3 linked regions of the Homo sapiens genome follow. The protein of the gene in region 3 interacts with the protein of the main gene of each other region in a pairwise test. Each region holds a gene or a part of one and is shown on either strand. Other genes may lie near its edges. The genes, in order: LARP1B, FAM13C and KIF2A.

Evidence for each region.
Region 1: the proteins of KIF2A (region 3) and LARP1B interact in binary tests that used the Homo sapiens proteins (3 or more experiments, as listed by UniProt).
Region 2: the proteins of KIF2A (region 3) and FAM13C interact in binary tests that used the Homo sapiens proteins (3 or more experiments, as listed by UniProt).

Annotation. Positions count from the first base shown.
Region 1 is NC_000004.12:128,057,100-128,064,362, reverse strand, and holds the start of LARP1B (la-related protein 1B), read right to left. Parts: upstream 3,052-7,263; 5' UTR 2,962-3,051; exon of another isoform or gene 2,670-2,961; coding exon of another isoform or gene 2,144-2,669; intron 1-2,143.
Region 2 is NC_000010.11:59,359,502-59,367,464, forward strand, and holds the start of FAM13C (protein FAM13C), read right to left. Parts: upstream 3,049-7,963; 5' UTR 2,960-3,048; coding exon 2,898-2,959; intron 2,883-2,897; exon of another isoform or gene 2,398-2,882; intron 1,610-2,397; exon of another isoform or gene 1,525-1,609; intron 1-1,524.
Region 3 is NC_000005.10:62,309,162-62,316,285, reverse strand, and holds part of KIF2A (kinesin-like protein KIF2A), read right to left. Parts: intron 1-7,124. UniProt on the Homo sapiens protein: Plus end-directed microtubule-dependent motor required for normal brain development. May regulate microtubule dynamics during axonal growth. Required for normal progression through mitosis. Required for normal congress of chromosomes at the metaphase plate.

The sequences.
Region 1 (7,263 bases), on a different chromosome or scaffold from region 3:
TCTCCCTCTTTGGAGAGTTCCTCTGAAGAAATGTTAACATAACATAATGGGTGCTTGTAACAATCACCGTACTTTTTTTTTTTTTTTTTTTGAGACTGAGTCTTGCTCTGTCACCCAGGCTGGAATACAGTGGCTCAGTCTTGGCTCACTGCAACCTCCGTCTCCCGGGTTCAAGCGATTCTCCTGCCTCAACCTCCTGAGTAGCTGGTATTACAGGCACGCACCACCATATCCGGCTAATTTTTGTATTTTTAGTAGAGACGGGGTTTCGCCATGTTGGCCAGGCTGATCTCGAACTCCTGACCTCAGGTGATCCACCCGCCTCGGCCTCCCAAAGTGCTGGGATTACAGGCGTGTGCCACCGCGCACAGCCAATCGCCTTACATTTATACCACCTCTTCATCGCATTTGATCCTCACAAGCCAGTAAACACGCTCAAATATTTCTTGTTCTGCTGCTAACCTTTAATTTTAAATAAAAATGAAGACTTGCAAGTAAACAGCTGTCATTTGCATATAAAAAGTTCAAGTCATTTACAACTTAATTTAGAAAGATACGGTTTTGTTTTTTTGTGTTTTTTTTTGAGACGGAGTTTCGCTCCTGTTGCCCAGGCTGGAGTGCAGTGGCGCGATCTCGGCTCACTGCAACCTCTGCCTCCCGGGTTCAAGCGATTCTCCTGCCTCAGCCTCCCCAGTAGCCGGGATTACAGGCATGCGCCACCACGCCAGGTTAATTTTGTATTTATAGTACAGACAAGGTTTCTCCATGTTAGTCAGGATGGTCTTGAACTCCTGACCTCAGGTGATCCACCTGCCTCGGCCTCCCAAAGTGCTGGGATTACAGGCGTGAGCCACCGCGCCCGGCCAGATACTGCTTTTTGTCATGGTTTTTATTTCCATTTTAACTTTTTTTTTTTTTTTTTTTTTTTTTTTTTTGAGAGTGGGTCTCACTCTGCCGACCAGGCTGGAGTGCAGTGGCGCGATCTCGGCTCACTGCAACCTCCACCTCCCGGGTTCAAGCGATTCTCCCTGCCTCAGCCTCTCAAGTAGGTGAGATTACAGGCGCCCGCCACCACGCCTGGCTAATGATCGTATTTCTAGTAGAGACGGGGTTTCGCCATATTGGCCAGCCTGGTCTCGAACTCCTCACCTCAGGTGATCCGCCCGCCTCGGCCTCCCAAAGTGCTGGGATTACAGGCGTGAGCCACCGCGCCGGCCCATTTTTACTTTCTTAAGTTGCAGTTACTACAATCAAAATAAAGCACCGACGGCCATACAGCATTGGTCAGCATTCAAATATAGTGGCATAATCTTATCTCCTCTAAAGGGAAGGAGAGCTGACAATGTTAGAAAACCATTTACCTAACGTGCAATCCACGCTCGCATGTCAACTATCCTATTTCAATTATTTTCCAGCACACTTATAACTTAAAGCACTTTATTTTTTTTAATTATACTTAAAGTTTTAGGGTACATGTGCACAACGTGCAGGTTACACATGTATACATGTGCAGCCATGTTGGTGTGCTGCACCCATCAACTCGTCATTTAACATTAGGTATATCTCCTAATGCTATCCCTCCCCCCTCCCCCCATAAAGCACTTTAAAAACCACATTTAAAGTCTCATTTTTAATATGACTGCTCAGCAGTGTTTTGAAAACCTTTTTTCATCTTATTTCACAAAAGACTACAATCGCGCTTCCACTTACGAATAAATCCCCTTGCTCTGACTTGCTTCAATCCTTTTATGTAAAAAAAAAAAAAAAAAAGTCTACCAAAACTTTCCCATACGAAGCACTGCAGTATCTAAAGTTAGCTACTTTCCCAAGTCACTAACACTGGGGACAAAACACAATCGCAACCGCGCCAGCAGGGATGCGCCGCCAAGCTACCACCTCCGTGCCCCCATCAGGCAAGGAGAACCTGAGGTCCCACCTCTTCCTGCCGCTCCCTTCCCAGATGCCCATGTCTGTAAATAGGCAGAGTGAATGACACCTTGGAACAAATTACCTCCGACTGACAGGGAGGGGAGGCCTGCCGTTACCCGGGCCTGGTGCCCGCTACCGCCGCCACGCGCCGGCAAGTCCCGCAAGTCGCCCCTGCCCGCACCCTGCCAGTGCCCAACGCAGAGCAACCACAGACCTGCCTCCAGGGTTTCCAGCGGGGGCGGTGGCGGACCTGTCGTGTCTGGGGACAGGTGCTGGGGAGGCTTTTTGGTCCAGGGATTTCCCTTAGGCGGCAGCAGCGGCGGCTGCCGCTTTTCCGCAGGGCCAGCTGCCACCTCTTCCCGGGCGTCCTCGGCCGGCGGATCCCGCAGCAACGGCGGCAACGGCGACGGCGGCGGCGGTGGCGGTGGCGGCTCCCCGCCGAAAGGGCCCCCGGGCCCACGCGCCTTGTGCGCCAGGTGCAGCGCCAGGGGCCTCACGGGGACAGCCGCCTGGGGCACGCTGCGTCCCAGCACCAGCGCCGGCGACGGCTCTCCCCGCGCCCCAGCGCTAGTGGCGGCCGCGGCCCTCTCCTCCCTCGCCGCCTCTTTGCCCTCACATTCGGGCGGGGGCGGCTGCTCGGCCGGCCGGTTCGCCGCGGCCAACAGCGACTCCCTCTCAGCAGTCACCGCGGGCGGATCCTCCCGAGAATGGGCGGCGGGCATCGGGGCGCGAGTAGACATCGTCCCTCTGCCCCAGCCGCCCCAGCCGGGGTGGCCCCGAGGCCAGGGAACCCGACTGCCCGTCTCTCCGCCGGGACACCGGCCGGCTCCAACTGGGGACAGACAACCCGAGAGCCCGGCGGCCGTGGCCGCCGCTGCCGCCGCCCGCCGAGGCCGCGCAGCGCCCGGCGTGACGCCCCTCCCCGCACCGAACGGAGCGCCAACCGCCCGCCGGCCCCGTCCTCTCCGCGACGCACGCCCCGAGCCCGCCACCACGCGCCGGGAGCCGCAGCCGGGAGCCGCGAGCCCTCACCTGGCGCAGGGCAGCCGCGGAGGCGCAGCACGCCGAGGCCGAGGAGCTTTACCCGAGTTGGGGAGGCGCGAGCAGCCAAAGCTGGTAACTGCCCGCGGAGGCGTGGAGACGGCGAAGAGGGGCGGCCCGAGAGCACGGGGCGGGGCCTCCCTGAGGAGCGTGACGTGGCTACTCACCGGGTCCTTCTCTCGCCGGGCCTCCCGCGGGAGCTGACGGATTCGCCCGCCCGGGTGCCGCCCGGCCCGAGGGTCTGCCCCGCCCCAGCTGCCCTCCGAGTGCGAGGGAGGACGAAGGGGACGACTCCCGGCTCACTGGCTGAGGCCGCCCCGACTGCAGGCTCAGGGGCGGAGCGCGCACCAGGCCTCTGTGGCTCGCGGCTGGCTCGCGGCCTGCCCCCGCGGCGACGGCGGCCAAGGGCCTGGGCGGGCCGCGCACATGGCGCTGGGAGGACCGAGCGCTCGATTTGCCCTTAGGCCCTAAAGCTGGGTCGCAGCTAGGCTAAGGGAGGGGACGCGGTGTCGACCCCCGGCCTGGGGCAGCTCCCAAGTGAAGTGGGCTCCGCGGCCCGGCCGCTTGGCCCGCTGGCGCCCGGCGCCTCCCCCAGGTGAAAGTTGCCTCCTGGCGCCTCGGGGCACCGCGATCACCTGTAATCTTGAGCCACGTCCCAGATGAAGGGGGAGTTACCTCTCGGTAACTGTTTAGGAAACCTTTGCCCCAGCGTTCGGCTTAGTGCGCTTCCCCGCCCGCATTCCCACCCACCAACTAAAAGAGTTCTAAAGCGTTCCTGAGTAAATTAAATAGTATTTCGCCGGCTTTTAAAATTTTTTGTTACCTGTTTCTTTAATTTGGGTAAATAGCACTTAATTACAAATTAACCATATTCCCAATAGGTTTTTTCTTCCTGGAATGGATGTTAAAATGGTACAAAGACGTTTTGATAATAAATCGGATACGAGCTTTCTACTTGGCACTCACATTCACTTAGAGATGATACTCGTTTCATTTTTGAGTCAGTGTTTGTGTCCTGGTGCAAGGTGGCTGAGAGCAGGTTCCGCCGCTGATTTTTTTCCGAGCCCCCCACCAACCCCATAGCCTTGTTAAATAAATTATCTGTGCTCGCCTTATGTTTGGGCTTTCAACCCCCACCCCCCACCCCACGCCCAATAAGTCGCTTCAATTACATTCAACTTGACGTTAATATTTTTTGCTTACTCAAAAGCCGTATTCGGCACAAATAATTTTCCTAAGGCTAATAACCTATTCATACATAACAGCTATAAACAATAAGGGTTTTCTTGTTTTCCGTGTCAGTGATCTCCAGTTTGCCCAACCCTAAGCAACCTGGCGAACCTTGTTGCAATTAAAAGGGGATTGTACTTCCACCTATATTCCCATCCATCTTTACTAGCTCTGTTATTAGTGGCGCTTTGTATTTTTTATTGGTGGTGGTGATGGTGGTGGTGGTGGTGGTTTGAGACAGAGTCTCACTCTATTGCCCAGGCTGGAGTACAGTGGCGTGATCTCGGCTAACTGCAACCTCTGCCTCCCAGGCTCAAGAGATGCTCCTGCCTTAGCTTCCTGAGTAGCTGGGATTACAGGCGCGCCACTACCACCCGGCTAATTTTTGTATTTTTAGTAGAGACGGGGTTTCATCAGGTTGGCCAGGCTGGTCTTGAACTCCTGACCTCAAATGATCCACCCGCCTCGGCTTCCCAAAGTGCTGGGATTACAGGCATGAGCCACCGCGCCCGGCATTTTTTTTTTTTTAAGAGGTAGTCTCTCTCTGTCGCCCAAGCTAGAGTGCAGTGGCGCGATCGCGGCTCACTGCAACCTCTGCCTCCCGGGTTCAAGCGATTCTCATGCCTCAGCCTCCCGAGTAGCTGAGATTACAGGCGCCCACCACCACACCCGGCTAATTTTTGTATTTTTGGTAGAGACGGTGTTTCACCATGTTGGCCAGGCTGGTCTCGAACTCCTGGCCTCAAGTCATCCCCCCACCTTGGCCTCTCAAAGTGCTGGGATTACAGGCGTGAGCCACCACGCCTAGCCTCACACCTCTGTAAAGTGTCCTTTTAATAATAAACTTAAAATTCCAAAATTTGAGCGTTCCGTCTGATTTTAGTTTCATCTGACTGACCCAATTTGCTGTAATTAACCTCTATCTTGTTACTTCATTCTGCCTCTGCAGCTACGTGCCAGACTCTTCCTCTGCTTCATAGTTCAAAATTAAGGATAAAAGACTGCTTGACCCTACTTATTTTTTCCAGCCAGATTATACAATTCATTAGCCAATCTGTGGATTATCTGCCCTTGGGTAGGGTGTTCACCTGGTCTGGAAGAACAAATTATTTGGTTCAAAACACTGCCATCAGCCAGGCGAGGTGGCTCACGCCTGTAATCCCAGCACTTTGGGAGGCCAAGGCTGGCGGATCACGAGGTCAGGAGTTCCAGACTAGCCTGGCCAACACAGTGAAACCCCGTCTCTACTAAAAATACAAAAATTTAGCTGGGTGTGGTGTCGTGCTGCGATTACAGGTGCCTGCCACCACACCCAGCTAATTTTTGAATTTTTAGTAGAGAAGGGGTTTTCACCATCTTGGCCAGGCTGCTCTCAAACTCCTGACCTCAAGTGATCCACTCACCTCGGCCTCCCAAAGTGCTGGGATTACAGGCGTGAGCCACACACCCAGCCATAAATATCTTTCTTTTTTTGTTTCTTTGTTGGTTTTTTTTTTTTTTTTTTTGAGCTGGAGTCCAGGCTAGAGTGCAGTGGCATGATTTCGGCTAACTGCAACCTCTGCCTCCCAGGTTCAAGAGATTCTCCTGCCTCAGCCTCCCGAGTAGCTGGGACTACAGGCATGCGCTGCCATGCCCAGCTAAGTTTTTGTATTTTCAGTAGAGACGGAGTTTCACCTTGTTGCCCAGGCTGGTGTCGACCTCCTGAGCTCAGGTGATCTGCCCCCGCTTGGCCTCCCAAAGTGCTGGAATTACAGGCGTGAGCCACCGCGCCTGGCCTGTTGAAAGAGGCCTCTTTCTGTTGCCTCACTCTGTTGCCTAGGCTGGAGTGCAGTGGTACGATTTTGGCTCACTACAGCCTCTTCCTCCTGGGTTCAAGCGATTCTCCTGGCATGTGCCACCATGCCTGACTAATTTTTCTTTTTTTGAGATGTAGTCTCACTCTGTTGCCCAGGCTGGAGTGCGGTGGCAGGATCTTAGCTCACTGCAAGCTCCACCTCCCAGGTTCAAGCAATTCTCCTGCCTCAGCCTCCCTAGTAGCTGGGACTACAGGCATGCACCACCATGCCCAGCTAATTTTTTGTATTTTTAGTAGAGACAGGGTTTCACCATATTGACCAGGCTGGTCTTGAACTCCTCACCTCAAGTGATCCACCCTCCTCAGCCTCCCAAAGTGCTGGGATTACAGGCGTGAGCCACCGCGCCTGTCCCTAATTTTTGTGTTTTTAATAGAGACGGGGTTTCACCATGTTTACCAGCCTGGTCTTGAACTCCTGACCTCAGGTGACCTGCCAGCCTCAGCCTCCCAAGGTGCTGGGATTACAGGTGAGAGCCACCGCCTCTGTCTTGCTCTGTCACCCAGGCTGGAGTGCAGTGGCCCGAACTCAGCTCACTTCAAGCTCCGCCTCCCGGGTTCACGCCATTCTCCTGCCTCAGCCTCCTGAGTACCTGGGACTACAGGCGCCCGCCACCACGCCCAGCTAATTTTTGTATTTTTAGTAGAGATGGGGGTTTCACCATTTTGGCCAGGCTGGTTTCGAACTCATGACCTCAGGTGATCCATCCGCCTCGGCCTCCCAAAGTGCTGGGATTACAGCGTGAGCCACTGCGCTGGGCTATGAAGACATTCTTACATGATCTATTCAGTTCCATTTAACTTTTTAATTTAATTTAATTTTTTTTTTTTTTGAGACAGTCTCGCTGCATCGCCCAGACCGTAGTGCAGTGACGCCGTCTCAGCTCACTGCAACCTCCGCCTCCCGGGTTCAAGCGAGACCCTGTCTCAAAAAAAAAAAAAAAAAGAAAAAGAAAAAGAAAACAGCCAGGCGTGGTGGCTCAAGCCTGTAATCCCAGTGCTTTGGGAGACCAAGGCGGGCGGATCACTTGAGGTCAGGAGTTTGAGACCAGCCTGGCCAACATGGTGAAACCCCGTCTCTACTAAAAATACAAAAATTAGCCGGGTGTGGTGGTGGTGCCTGTAATCCCAGCTACTGGGAATGCTGAGGCAGGAGAATTGCTTGAACCCATGAGGCGGAGGTTGCAGTGAGCCAAGATCACCCCACTGCA
Region 2 (7,963 bases), on a different chromosome or scaffold from region 3:
CAAAGTTGCAGAGGTACAGCCTCCTGTGGGCTTTCTCAAAATGTGGCCCCTTGCATTAGCACTACCTGAAGTACCTGGTCAAAACAGAAGTCTCCAGCCCCACTACATCAACTCTCTGAGGGCAGAGCCCAGGAATGTGGATTTTTAAAACAGACTGCCTACCTATAGAACTACTATGTTTCTAAACATTTAACACTGACCTAAAGGTTTCCAAACCCCAAAACAGCACTGTCCTGACACCAATACAATCACCCATTCTGGGTTCCCACTTTGAGATAAAACCTGGGAGACTGCAATTTTCACAAGCTCCAGTCCCCTTCCCCAGTTGATATTGATGATCAGTTAGCTTTGAGAACCACTGGTTTGAATGATAACTAATCAGAATTATTGCAGGCTTCATTTAAAATAGCAAGTTAGCTGGGGCAATGTCACGATTGACCATGGAAAAATATTAGATGAAAAGGTGCCACAGATAGGGAAGAAAAGGCCAAGGCCATTGTGATGAAAACATTGGGGTGGAAAAAGAAATTGAATTTGTCTAGAGCTGCATAGATAGTGCCAGGGCTGGGAAAAACCAAGAAGAAAATAAAATCTGTCCTTGAGTCCCTCCCAATTTCCCTTTCCCCTTGACTCTTCTAGGACTCCCAGCTGGCCAAGCATAACCATAACCATAACAGGTTAGAAAATAGGTTAGGTAAAATAATTCATATTAAAGTATTCATGACAATTTGAATCCACTTCCCAAGGGCACAAACTTTTTAATTTCCAATTTAATAAGGGTCACTACCAGAGGCCTTCATCCAAAGAAATCATCTCTAGGTGAAATTTCAGGCATCGAAGAAAATAAGTGGGTGTGAGTAGAAGGATGTAGGAATGGGGTGGGGACAGGAGGCAGAGGAGCTCTTCTTGTATCCAGAACATAGAGGGGAGAAAAGTCCCTCCTCCGTGTAGGCCAAGACCACACCCAAACATTTCCTGAGAACCTGCTATGTCTGTGTCTCAGGATATAGCACCTTGGTCCTGAGGGCTATGGGGTCATGCCCAGAGAAGCACGGGATATGGGTCATATTACTGAGGTGAGGGGAAAATGTTATTGTGGCAATGACTAGTTTTAAACAGTCCTAGTCAATGATGTGTTATACCTATGAAGCTTTTGGTATGTTCTCAATAGGCTCCTTAGATTTTTATATTAGCCAAATGGCATACCAATTATCTCTCAGTGCCTTTTAAAATAAATCACTGTCACTCCTCTGAAAGTAAAAACATGATCTTATGCAATCAGAACTCCTTGGGGAGTGTCCAAAGACAAGGCACCAGGCTCTCCCCAGCATTTAACCACGAAACCTCTACAGAAAAAAAAAAAAAAAAAAAAAAAAAAGTCCACGTGAAATCTGGAGCTAAGTGTCTCCATTTTGAACCTGCCGTGCCTGTGACTGACCGAGGATTTGGCCACACCAGGCTCCTGAGAATCGGGGCCAGAAAGCACTTAGTACTTTAAGCACAGCAAAGGGAGGAGAGCAGTACCTGTGCACCTGGAGCAGGAAGTCCAGGCCTCATCTTCGGCCTGCAGATGCACACTTTGGCACACCTCTCTCCCCTTCTCTCAGGCCTTTAGAAAAGCAACATTGCAGCACAGGTTACCAAGCAATCTTATAAACAGAATGTGGGTCCAAATGAGTATTTTACATTGCTTCTTCTAAAGTCAATCCTGTTTTTTTTTTTAAGTGACTCCACTTAAGTCTGCTCAAAACTGGACACTAAAGGAGCAGCACAGCAAAAGAGAGAAACAAAAGAATGTGGAAAACAAGAGGGCCTAGGAAGCACTGTAAACCTTATCCCTCCCTCACCAAGTCATTGTGATAGTGGCAGGACTTGGAAGCCAAAAGCAAAACATTTATTTGCTTTTTAGGGAATTTTAGCAAACAGCTCCCCAGTTAGTTAAGCCTTCTACATCAAACTCATAACATTTTTTAAATGTAGTTGAGGATACAACTTTACACATGCCTTTTTCCTGAAAAGATGTTTAGAGTGGCTTCTACAAAGGTCCCAGAAGTAAACATCATGAATTAGCCTAGAGAAAGAATGCTAGATGAAGTACATATTCATATATATATATGTATATATAAATTACATACAGTATTAGCAAAATACACTACCTGTTAATTTTTAACAAATATAGTATAATATTAGGAAAACATTAAGGAAGGGATGTCAAAAATTAAAACTATAGCATATAAATATCTTTAAAAAAATACTGTGCTTGCTGGTACGCTCCTTCATTCACACTCCTTCATTCCATGTTTGAAGGGTGTTAGTTGCCCTAATCAACAGCTTTAACCATAGGACTAGGTGACTCATTCGTCCCATAGTCACATCTCTGTAGTCAGAAGACAAACATGACAAAGGGCATGCACAAAAAGTTTACTCTGATATGCCTTAAAAATCTGTAGACAAGAGAGGGCCAAGATAAGTTTAGCCTGTTTACCACATGCTGGAATTCAGCTCATTTCACATCTATCTTCTATTGCTGTAAATGTATATAGTGTGCACTCCATGAAAACTGACACCAATGTTGGCAAAATACAACAAAGCTTCCTAACACATCAAATGGATTTTTAAAAATCTGAGCTCCAAGAACACATATCTTGGAGCACTGAGCTCCTGCAAGCAATCAGCTGGTTTTAATTTCTCTCCCGCAGCTGCTAAAATGCTGGTTTCAACCTGTAAAGATTTCTGGGCCCCACCAGTCAGCACGTCTCACGGTCTTCACAGCCCCAGATTCCGGGAGACAATGCATCTAAAACGAACAGCGGCTGGGAACGGTGGAGGATACCTTCACGATAGTTGCTTCCAGAGAAAGGCATGCAAGTCTAATTTTAATGGTAAGAATCACTTACTCTGTTACAGTGGTGCTGCTGAAGGAATTATCCTGAAGGCTGAAACAGAAACAAGAAAACATCAGCCAAGTCTGGCCGGGGAGCCGTCTCCCTGATTGCTCTCCGGGAGTTAGAGCACATACACAAACATGGCATTGCAAGGCAAGTCTCCGGGCTCGCCCGGCACGCTCGCTCTACCTTGGGCTGCTGTCTGCACATGCTCGTAACGACACCCCCAGCAGGGGCCCAGCGGCACGGGCGAACCACAAAGCCCGGCAGCCCGCGAGGCTGCGGGGACAGAGCTGGGCGGGGCGCGGCGGCGGGGCTGGGACCCCGGGATCCAGCGAGGAGCACCTGGAGAGTTACCACACGACCCCGACCTCGCCAGCCCAGGCGCCGCGTTTAATCTTGGGCTCTTTGTGCCAGCCACCCCCCGAGGCTGGCAATGAGAATGCCCCAGTGTTTCTGCCGAAGTGCTGAAATACCCGGGAGACTTGCTTTCTTCCACATGTCTCCTACCAATTTTACAGAGCTCACCCCAACCCCCCACACTCCCACCCCACCCCCAGGGATGGAGGCTCGCAGAGATTCATCCATCGTTCAGAAAAAGTCAGGAGAGAACAAGAAGGGGGAGGGGGATATTGCTGCTGTTTGGTGTTTTATTTTGTGTGTGTGTTTTTTGTTGCCTAGGAAAAAGAATAGGCTCTAAAGCAGGGCTGGCTGCATCACACCTGATCTGTCTAGAGCGCTCTTATTTCAGTCCCAGAGAGGAAGCGCCCAGCCCCGGACTACAGAGCTGTGAATGAACCCACGCAGGGCGAGTGGAGAATTTATTCCAGGGGTTAGCTGGTGATTAGGACACCGTGCAAGGGGTGGGGCTTGCTATGCCTAGAGCAGCCCGCTTGAGCTCAGCTCCCTAGCTAGCACCTTTACAAAGGATGGAGAGACGGAATCCGCAAACGCTATCCCTTTGAATAAAGGCAGCCTTGTTAGGGAAAGGAAAGACTGTCAGTCCCCCCACTGGCTTCTTTCCCTTGGGGATATTTGTTCTGCCCTCTTTGTATTGTTCATTTCTCCTGCCATGTTGACCTGGATATGGGATGTAGCATCTATTAAAGATTCTTATTTGAATTTGAATTATTTTATTTGAATTTTGAAATAAGATTCCCATCCCCCTTTTTAATCTTTCTACTCCCAGAAGCAGCTAGGATAGTGGTTTTTAGTCCAAACCTATGTAAGTTAATGAGTTAACATAACAACAAAAAACTCATAATTTTTCTAATTGGGCAATTAAAAACTTTACCAAAACTTGGAAATAATGGGGAAGAGCATGACCTTTCAATGTCAAACTGAGACATCGGTTAACAAGTCCACCCAGGGGCCAGTTAATTCTCCAGTTGTGTTTGGCTTTGCTCTTCACTATTGATTAGATTCCAGCCACAGTGAAGTTCTGTGGTCACTTGCACATTTTATTCAGCCTGTTCAGAGAAAAAGATAATCGCAGCGTTTATGATTTTATTGCAATATAGGAAGATAACCAATTTTGCATCTAACCAAATAATCATTTTGCATCTAACCAAACTTTCTTTCTAAATACCTGTAAATCCACAGATCCTCAAAATGCTTTTGGAACCAGCTTCATCATCTTACAGTTTTCCCCATTAATAAGTGAATAGATCTCTGCTGCCTGCCTATGTTTGTATGAGAGTTGTATTTTAACTTTTTAAATTTATACCTTGAAAAATAAAAATTGAGTTTTCAAAGAAAAACAGGTTTCATTAAGGTTCTTTGCAATTTTGCTTTCCTCTCTCCAAATATTTTTAAAATCAGCTAAATAAAAACCTAATATGGTCTTAGACTGAATTCTATGGACTAAAATAAGTTCAGGAATATTAATCCTTTGTATGTATAACTATACAGTACATATTTGTTCCGAAGCCACCTACTATTTCATTTGAGCTAGGTTCAGGAGTAAGAGACATCGCTGCTTCACTGTATTCATTATTTAGCCATTTCAAAGTGAGATCTGTTCTTTGTTTATTCAGACTGATGAAGGTAAGTCTATATTCAGCCTTCTGACTGACTTATGGTTTCATAGATTACATGGTTGTTAATTTCCCATATGGTTGTTAATTTCCAGAAACCCCTTGTACTCATTGACTATGGTGTTTATTCCAAGTGTTCCAGTGTGGAGAAAGATCACACTTTTCTCCTATAAATACTCCCAGTGATCCACTTGTAATGGAAATGTTCAATGCTTTTAATTTGAAATAGGACTTGGACATTTAATTAAGAACAACCTTAATTAAATGGTTGATTTTCTTATATACTGCCAAATACTGTTTTTTTTTCATTCTATGAAATGAATTGGGCCCTTTGAAAATAAAATGAAATAACAAATGTACCCAATAAATGCAAGTATTCAATAATGTCCAAGGAAAAGAAATAAAAATTCTCAGCAACTCGTGAATAGGAAGGACCAAAATTAGGTTTTAGGCAGTACCCACATACAATGAAAACAACTGGTTGATACAGTTGATTATGGATAAAAACCAAAACATCCCTGAAAAAACATTATTTGGCAGTATATAACAAAATCAACCATTTTAATTTTTACTTCTCAATTAATTCTTATGACATTTGTTTTCATCTTAAATCAGGTTTAGAAATTGTCTTTGTAAGTGGCTTTTTAATTGGCTTTTATGATGTTTTGTACTGTTCAACTTGGAATAGGACAATACTGATGAATATCGTACAACATATGATTATTTTGGAGACCCTCAGCTTTACTAAAGAACAATTCCAGGAGGGTTTGAAAAGGGGAGCAGAAAAATTAATATTGAGTTTATGAAGAAGTAAGTTCTAGGCCAGTATTTCCCAAGTGGCAGTGAAATTCTAGTCTCCAGAAAATCCAGGAAAATGTTTTAAAAGTTACATGGTCAAAAATAAGTTTTGGAAAAGATGCATATTATAAATTCACAATGCACATTAGGTAGCAAAGAGAAGTTTTTCATCTGTTTTTAACAGTGTTCCTCAAATTCATTGAAGACCAAAATAATTTTTTGTTAAATATATCATCAATTAGCATCATGTATAACTAGGAATTTTGAGAAAATAACTCCTGAATATATCAGGAAAAAAATGCAAAGGGAATTAAGTGGTATATTTATTAAACGAATGAATGAACAAATGATTCTACATGCTTATCACTATCCCATAGTTATGAATAAGACAGACACAGTCCCTGACATCATAACATTTTTAATATAAATATATTGCATATTTATATATGTAAAATACATAATGTATATTATATGTACAATTCTATTGTATACAATATAAGTAAAATAAAGGAAAAATGAAGATGCTAGATTTGAATATGGTTAATTCACTTAACATGTTAAAAGTGCTCAATTTTAAATGCTCATTTTTCTATCAGTGCTCTAAAACCAATATCTGAATATCAGATCTAATACCAATAGTTTAGTTTAATTGTAAAATTGTTAATTCTAATGTATTGACTTGACTATATGCAAAATATAAAGCAACAGTGTAGAGGTCAAGAAAGAAATTTCCAGATTTGCCAAGACTCAAGACCCACCGCTTACTAATAGTTTAAACATGAACAACCTCTTTTGCCTCAATTTTCTCATCTGTAAAATAAAGATAATAATGACCTATTTTATGGGTTCTTATGAAGATTAAATTAAATGACATGCCTGACAAATTTAAAAAATAGTAAATAAATGCTGCTAATTATCCTTATTTTCATTAGTATTATTATAATAAATAAGAATATATAAACAAAGCTTGAGACAAGATGAACAATGCCACTGTGCTTGAAGAGGAGGCTTACAGATGATATTTTCTTTCTACTTCCTATGATGGCGCAGTGTTTACACAGCTTTTTTTTTTTTTAAGAACAATAAAATTTAAAACTTTACTAAATGCGGATGGGCTGCTCCGGATGAAATGGGTTTCATCCAGATTGGCTTTGTGCTCAGTTTACAACTCTTCAATTTAAAATACTTGCGCATCCCTGGAGGAACAGACAATTCTGAGAAATCACTTTCTGCAAGATGCTGGGGCAAGAAGCCAGAATCTTTACAATGCCAGGAAATCAACAGAGGCCTGCTCTATTGGCCTGGACAGAGTGACTTGTAGCTTCCTGTCAGTACCCTTGGGAATGACCAGGCTTCCTTGTGAAAGAGAGGACTCTTGCCTGAAGAGATAATTTTTTTTCCACAAAAAAAGAAAAAAAAAAAAACTTCTTCCCATCCCTGTCCCCTAATCTATTTCTTCACCAGCTCCAATGAGGACAGCATATCAAGAGTCCTTATTATCTGAGTGGTCAGTAACTGAGCTCCTGAAGATTCAAAGGTGCCCAGGGAAGCAAAGCTGTGATACCAAAAACATGTACTAGCGACAGACTGTTTGTGATATTGGTCTTCATCCAAACAACCCTCCCCAATTAATGCTAGTGTACATCAAGTCCATCTTTGGCAATCTCTCTCTGATTTATCTGACAATAAAATGCAGATGCAATGTAAATTGATTGATAAGTGAAATTTCAATTTTTTACAAAAGAGTCAGGATTTCTTGAAGCCAGTGGAAGTGATATTGCAGAACAGCTTGAATCACATTAAAAACCAGTGACAAGTGAGGTATTGGCAGTAACAACCAAAGAATAAAAATTGACAAGAATGCTGAGATGCCAATTCCAAAAGGAATTAATCAATTATCAAAGGATTAAGAGTGGCCCTTGGAAAAATTTATGGAGCCCTTAATTAATTTTGTAATTTCCCTTTTTATAATAATGTAATGAGTATCAAATGTGATGTGAAGATTATCACTTTGAGCTATTAATGTTTTTGAGAAAAATATGTATAACCCCTCCAATAGGTAAAATTTAGTCTCTATGATTTTTAAGAATTGGTTCACTATTTGAATTATACCCAGAATATAAAATAGTAATATTTCTATAATTTCTTTACCATTTACCATGGCCTCTCAGGCCCTATGTGCTCTGGCCCTGGAGACAACTGAACTTATCTCCAAAACACTGGCCTCTCTCCTGTTATTATAAC
Region 3 (7,124 bases):
ATTCCGTTCCAAGAATTCTGAGAGGGTCCTGGCTAACACACTACAGCTCAGTACTAAGAAGGCAAAGTACTTAGTTATAGCTTAAGCAAATTCCCATTGCAGGTAAACATGTAATGGAAGTGATTTATACCTTAAACTCAATTACTTTTAGGATATTAGTGGCAAAAACTATATGCAGCCTGAGTTGGATGCTCTCTTTGATATTACCTTGATAGGCTCTACAGTCCTCTACACTGTATTCTTGAACAGCGTTAGCCTGATTAAATAAAACTGAAGAGATTTAAAAGCTATACTCAGACTTTGCAAATGTTAAGTCCTTTCCTTTCAACTCATCTGCCCTTTATTCAGCACAAGGGATATATTGCAATATAACATCAATTCTTCTTGCTGTGTGTTCTGCATATCATCTGTTCCTTAATCATTGCTCACCCTCCTAGACTGATGCAATCTTATCCATGCTACCTCTCATTTTCAGTACTATGCTCCCTCTAATCTATCACTAATCACTAACTCCTATTACTGCTCTTAGGAGATTAAGTCCTATAGTAGTTTCCAAGTGTCCTAGAAATTAATTCCAAGATCCTTACCTTACCTCTGTTTCCAGGTCTTTAATAAGGTGCCCCAGATTACCCCTCCTCCCTTATCTTCTTCATCATCCTCCCTCTGCCTGTTTTAAATGCCCTTCACCTGACAGCTTTGTTTCCAGTCAGGGACTTCTTCCATGCTGCCTACATGGCTAGAATGCCTCCTTGCCCTCAGGGCAACCGACTGGTCATCTTCCTCTCACCATTTAAACTTCACTCTCCAAGAAGTCTTGTCAGATACTCTGTTAGGAGATACTACTTTTACTAAAATAATGGATCACAACCCTGGCTATACCCTGGAATCACTAATGTGTGACAAGTTAAGCTTCATCAGTATGTTAGGTGCCTTAAAGTAAAATACTGATACCTAGACTACATACCAGACAGAATCTCTAGGCAAAGGAACCAGATATTGGCTGTGGTGGGTTGCTTTTTTTTTTTTTTTTTTTTTTGGTCTGTTTTTTTCCACAGCCCCACAGGTGATCTATTGAGCAGCCAGAGTTATAAACCACCACAGGCTGAGCATTCTTTAATCCAAAATGCTCCAAAATCTGAAACTTTTTGAGCACCAACATGACACCATAGTGGAAAATTCCACACACGACCCTGTGATGGGTTGCGGTCAAAATGCGGGCATAAGGCCGGGTGTAGTGGCTCACACCTATAATCCCAACACTTTGGGAGGCTGAGGCAGGTGGATCACTTGAGGTCAGGAGTTTAAGACCAGCCTGGCCAACATGGTGAAACCCTGTCTCTACTAAAAATACAAAAATTAGCTGGGGATGGTGGCACGTGCCTATAATCTCAGCTACTGGGGAGGCTGAGGCAGGAGAATCACTTGAACCCAGGAGGCGGAGGTTGCAGCGAGCCAAGATCGTGCCACTGCACTACAGCCTGGGTGACAGAGTGAGACTCCATCTTAAAAAAAAAAAAAAAAAAAAAACAGTTCATTCTCAGCACAGTATAGACACTCAGCAAATTTTACCACAAGTTTGTTCCCTGCTGATCTTGTCCTTCCTTTAGGTAAAATGTGGTCAAAATTAATGCCAAAACCTACAAAAACCTGGAGAAAAAGTCTTCAAAAGTAAATAAAACATAGCCCAGGGAGGAACCTGATTCTTACAGTTCCCGGGCCATAATGTGTAAGGAGTTTATATCCAAATTACACATAACCACCAGTAGCTGCATCCACTGCTGTTTCCCATGCTCTGCTTCCTTGGTCTCTGTTTGTTTGTTTTGAGACAGTGACTTGTTCTGTCACCCAGGCTGGAGTGCAGTGGCATGATCATAGCTCACTGCAGCCTCCAACTCCTGGGCTCAACCAGTCCTCCCACTTCATCCTCCTGAGTAGCTGGGGCTACAGTCACATGCTACCAGGCCTGGCTAATTTTATTTTTTGTAGAAATAGAGCCTCATCATGTTGCCCAGGCTGGTATCCAACTCCTGGCTTCAAGCAATCCTCCTGCCTAGGCCTCCCAAAGTGCTGGGATTACAGGCATGAGACACCACACCGAGCCAGTCTCTATTTACAAGTACCCAAACCCAGGATATCTAGAGAGAAACCTGCTGTCAGGTGCTGGTCTGCCAAAAACTTTAAATTGAATAAATTTGACCAGGTATGGTGGCTCACACCTGTAATCCCAGTACTTTGGGAGGCCAAAGAGGGAGAATTGCTTGAGGCCAGGAGTTCAAGACCAGCCTAGTCAACATAGCAAGACCCCATCTCTACAAACAATACAAAAATTAGCTAGGCATGGTTGTGCATACCTGTAGTCCTAGCTACTTGGGAAGTTAAGGTGAGAGGATTGCTTGAGTCCAGGACTTGGAGGCTGCAGTGAGCTATGATCATGCCACTGCACTCCAGCCTGGGTGACAGAGCAAAACCCTAAAAAAAAATTCCTTTTGATACCAAAACAATTTAAAAGTTATAAACTTATAACTCAAATAGGTACTAGAGTATAGGAAATAGGCTAATAATGACAATGCCAATTTCAATTGGCAGACTAGGGCTATTAGGGCTGATAATGCTGTATTAAGAACTCTGAGGCTGGCCGGGCGCAGTGGCTCAAGCCTGTAATCCCAGCATTTTGGGAGGCTGAGGTGGGTGGACCACGAGCTCAGGAGTTCAAGACCAGCCTGGCCAACATGGTGAAACCCCATCTCTACTAAAAATACAAAAAAATTAGCCGGGCATGTTGGCGCATGCCTATAATCCCAGCTACTTAGGAGGCTGAGGCAGGAGAATCGCTTGAACCCAAGAGGCAGAGGTTGCAGTGAGCCGAGATCACGCCACTGCACTCCAGCCTGAGCAACAAGAGCGAGACTCCCTCTCAAAAAAAACTCTGAGGCTAAATTCATCAGGAATGCTATGAGGGATCACGGATATTGGTCATAGAGGAGGAGAGATGGCATATATGACATGTATTTTCCATCCAAAAGGTCCATAACTTCAAGAGTCTAACAAAAAAGCCTAATCTTCAAAAGGAAGGTAGTAATAATGTACACACAAAATGGCATATTTCTATCAGTACTAATCACACTATAGATGAATCACTTATTTACTTGTTTGTGAGGGCAGGAACTATTTTTGCTTTATTCATTTTTTGTATCTCCAACACCTATCAGAATGCCTGATATATAGCAGGCTGTTAATAGAAGTATATTCAATGAAATCTGCAATAAAAAAAAAAGAAACATAAGACCACATTATTTTGATATGTCATAATCACTTAAGGTCTATACTCCAAAATATCACACACCCTAGTGAATGACCATCTGAACTTCGTGTTTTATTGTAGTGGGTAATGATATCATAGTGCACTATAACCTCAAACTCATAGGCTCAAGCAATTCTCCTGCTTTGGCCTCCAAAGTGCTGGAATTACAGGCATGAACTACCATGCTCAGCCTAGAAGCATGACTTTTAAAAGGAACACTTCCCTCACTCATATTACTCTTGGGAGATAGTTTAATATGGTGAAATTCTAATGTCTCTTTTCACTTAGCACTATAAAACCACTAATATTGCTTTATCTAAAAGAGCTGGAAGACAACTTAACCTGTATTTGTTCTACAACTGAACCAGAAGAATAAAAATTAGTTTTATCCAAGGTTTAAAACTTGTATCTATTCTTAAGAATCGTAATCTCAAAACAAACAAACAAATAAACAAACACCTTAAAATTATTTTAGGTTACAAAACAGATGTGTTAAAATTAAAGCAGATGGCTGAATCCAAGAATTAAACTTTGCAAAAGATTAATGTCATATTAATCACAACTATACTTCTGACTAGAAAGAACGGGGTCTAGATGATCTCTCAGGGAATCTTGTTCTGGATTTTCCACACTCTTGCCCCTTGTCTTATTTGAGCAGACACAGATTTAACTGGCTCTTTGCTGTTTTCTCTAGCATTTTAACAATCATGACACATAAAACAAGTTGACACATAGCCTTTCCCCAGAGTTTCAAAATCTTTGTCATAAGAATCAAGTGGCTAGGCAATGAATACAGATTCCTGGCTTTCTGTGGTACTTTTGGAAGCAATAAGTGCCTATTTTAAGTTTTTTGAGCTTCTTTGGTAGTAGTGGAAAGAATTTTACTACAGGGGTTTGTATGTCTCAGAAAGAAATACTAAAGTATACAACTTCACACCATAATCAGCAAACATCTGTCAGCAGCACTTAGAGAGCTGGGAGTGAAGGGATTCGGGCTTTGGCCCAGGCTATGCTCCTTATTAACCATGTGATCTTGGCAAATAATCCAACCTCAGATTCTTCACCTATAAACCAATAATCTGCCACCTTTCTATCCTGCTTACCTCATAGAGTTCCTGTGAAGATCCAATTAGCTAACATGTCTTGAAGCACTTGGAAAACTATTAAGCCCTAACAAATCCATATACAGAAACATTATCGTCCTAGTCCTCAGGGAAAAGGGAACTATTAGGTCACAAATGCCCCTATTCCATCCCACCCCCATAATCAATCACATAATTGTACCTAAAGAACAACTGTATTGCCACATGGTTCATCTTTATTACTTAAATTTACACATGCTATTCTCCAGAAGCCTATATAGTGACGTGTAAAGATGAACTAGCAGAAGAAAAATGTGGCAAAGCATATAAAGAATTAGGCCATTTAAAATCTTTTCTAAAGATTTTCTTTGCCTGCCCTGAACTCCAAAATTCCTGATGGGTCCTTTGAAATCTTCAATTGCCTCTTGATTTCAGATGTTAAAAGGAACTCTTTACACCAATACTTAACTAAGAAACAAGAATACTTTCCTCCCACAATTTTAGGTTTGGTGAACTTGTAGTAACATAGCACTTCTTACCAGGGATCATTCTAATCAAGCTCTGTAACACTGCTCGCTGGTGCCTTTCTCCGAAGTAAGAAGCAATTTCCTACATCTTGACTGGGCTGTAAAAAGCGGTATACGGTTCCAAAATAACAGAGAATTCCTCCTTTACTGTCATAGTTCTTGATAGTCTGATTTCTATGCTAAGCATGTCAGGTTCCTGGCTGCCATTGACAAGTTGTATGAATCTAGATAAGTCACTTATGGTGATCTGGGACTCAAGTTTCCACATTTATAAAAATGAAAACTAGTTTATCTCCAAAAACCTTTCTGGTGGAAATATTCTAAGATTCTCTTCAGATTACATGTATCAATACAGTCACAGTACTGTGACTAAGAGACCCGCCCCCAAAGAACAATCCCATATTAGCTGCAGCTTCCAAATGTTCAACATTTCCCATTTCTTCCCCAGTCCCCAAAGGGTAGTCACAGCTACTACAGAACTGTTAACAGCACAGCTAAAAGAAAAAAAAAACCAAACTAGCTACACGACAGAAAGATTGTAGGTTTTTTTAAGAGTCAGTGGGTTTTAAAAAGGGAAAGGAATTGAATCAGAAAAATAGGAAGACACATGTAAGAAAACACACCAGTCCAATTTCATACCAGGTTATCTCCTGTGGCAGAGAATAATCTTAGCAGTCCAAGCCTAACCCCTGTCACTGATAACCTTAGAAAACCAGAAAAGTCAGATTAACCTTAGCAGATCACTCAATTTCAATTAACGCTGTAGTTCCTGACTAACAGGCCAGCGGGAAGTAGAGGGCCAGAGTAGGGAGGTAGCAGTACAGAGGAGCACAGATGGAAGGTTTCACTTCCAGCTAAGATGTCATTCTAATGATTAATTAAAATGTTTGAAAACAAAAAATCCAATAATGTATGATTTATTCAAAAACGATGTGCAAGGAATTTTGCTAGACATCCCAGTAGTGGGGGTGGGAATGGGGGTAATGACACAGATGCATTCAGGGAATTTAAGAGTCATTAGAGGCTGGGCACAGTGGTTCACACCTGTAATCCCAGTACTTTGGGAGGCTGAGGTGGGTGGATCACTTGAGGCCAGGAGTTCGAGACCAGCCTGGCCAACGTGGCAAAAACCTGTCACTACTAAAAATACAAAAATTAGCCGGGCATGGTGGCACACACCTGTAGTCCCAGCTACTTGGGAGGCTGAGGCATAAGAATCGCTTGAACCTGGGAGGCAGAGGTTGTAGTGAGCGGAGATCGCACCACTGACAGAGCGAGACTCTGTCTCAAAAAAAAAAAAAAAAAGAATTATTAGTTATTAGTAAGTCCCATTACCCCATGCAGTTTAAAAACATAGTATTAAGAATATGTACCCATAGGTATGAGCTGAGAGGAGTGGAAAAAAAAAAGTTACAGACCCAAACATTAATACTTAAGGAAATATGCTGTCTCATGAATAATACAGAATGATTTAGGAATTCAGATGCTGACTGGCCATCTGGTTTTAGTAATCAGTGAAGACTCATTAGGATAGTTTTCATCATGGTCTTGAAAGATAGGAATAAGCTCATTTTAGTGTACCTGTTTGCCCTTGGGATATGTTTATTAGTGTAAGAGTATCACTGATGGGAAAAGTGTGGTCTGAAATAGGGACATGGATCGCCATCAGCAAGCCAAAAGAAAAACATCAAGTCACCAGTTAATAATGGTCTGAAGCAGCCCTTCTTTACTCATGTCATTTCTACTGTCTCAGATATTAGTGTTCCTCCAACTGCAAAGTTTATTTTTGTTATAATAACCACTAGTGTTTTATCCAATATAGACGTTATGGAAGTGAGAGGAAGCAAACAAGCTTCTTTAAAGTGAAAAAGGGAAAGCTTGAGGGGCATTCTCCCAGACATCAATTTCTATTGTGAAACACTACTGTCCAATGCAAATGATCCTTCTGTTCTTTCGAAGTTCTCTACTAATCTCCTGCCTTCCACCAACTCCATCATGCATCTGAGGCACATAAAAAGATACATGACCATAGGTTAGGATAATAACACACTGTGATGACTTCCCTAATTTCTTATAGGCAAACCGCTTTTGAAATGTGGCTTTAGGTTAGTAGCACTTATGTAAGAACACAAAGCTCTTGTATGTCTGGGAACTTCTGGTATAGGCTGAAGGTGAAGGCTGAAAAGAACGAAAATTGCTTCAAGTTCAATAAAT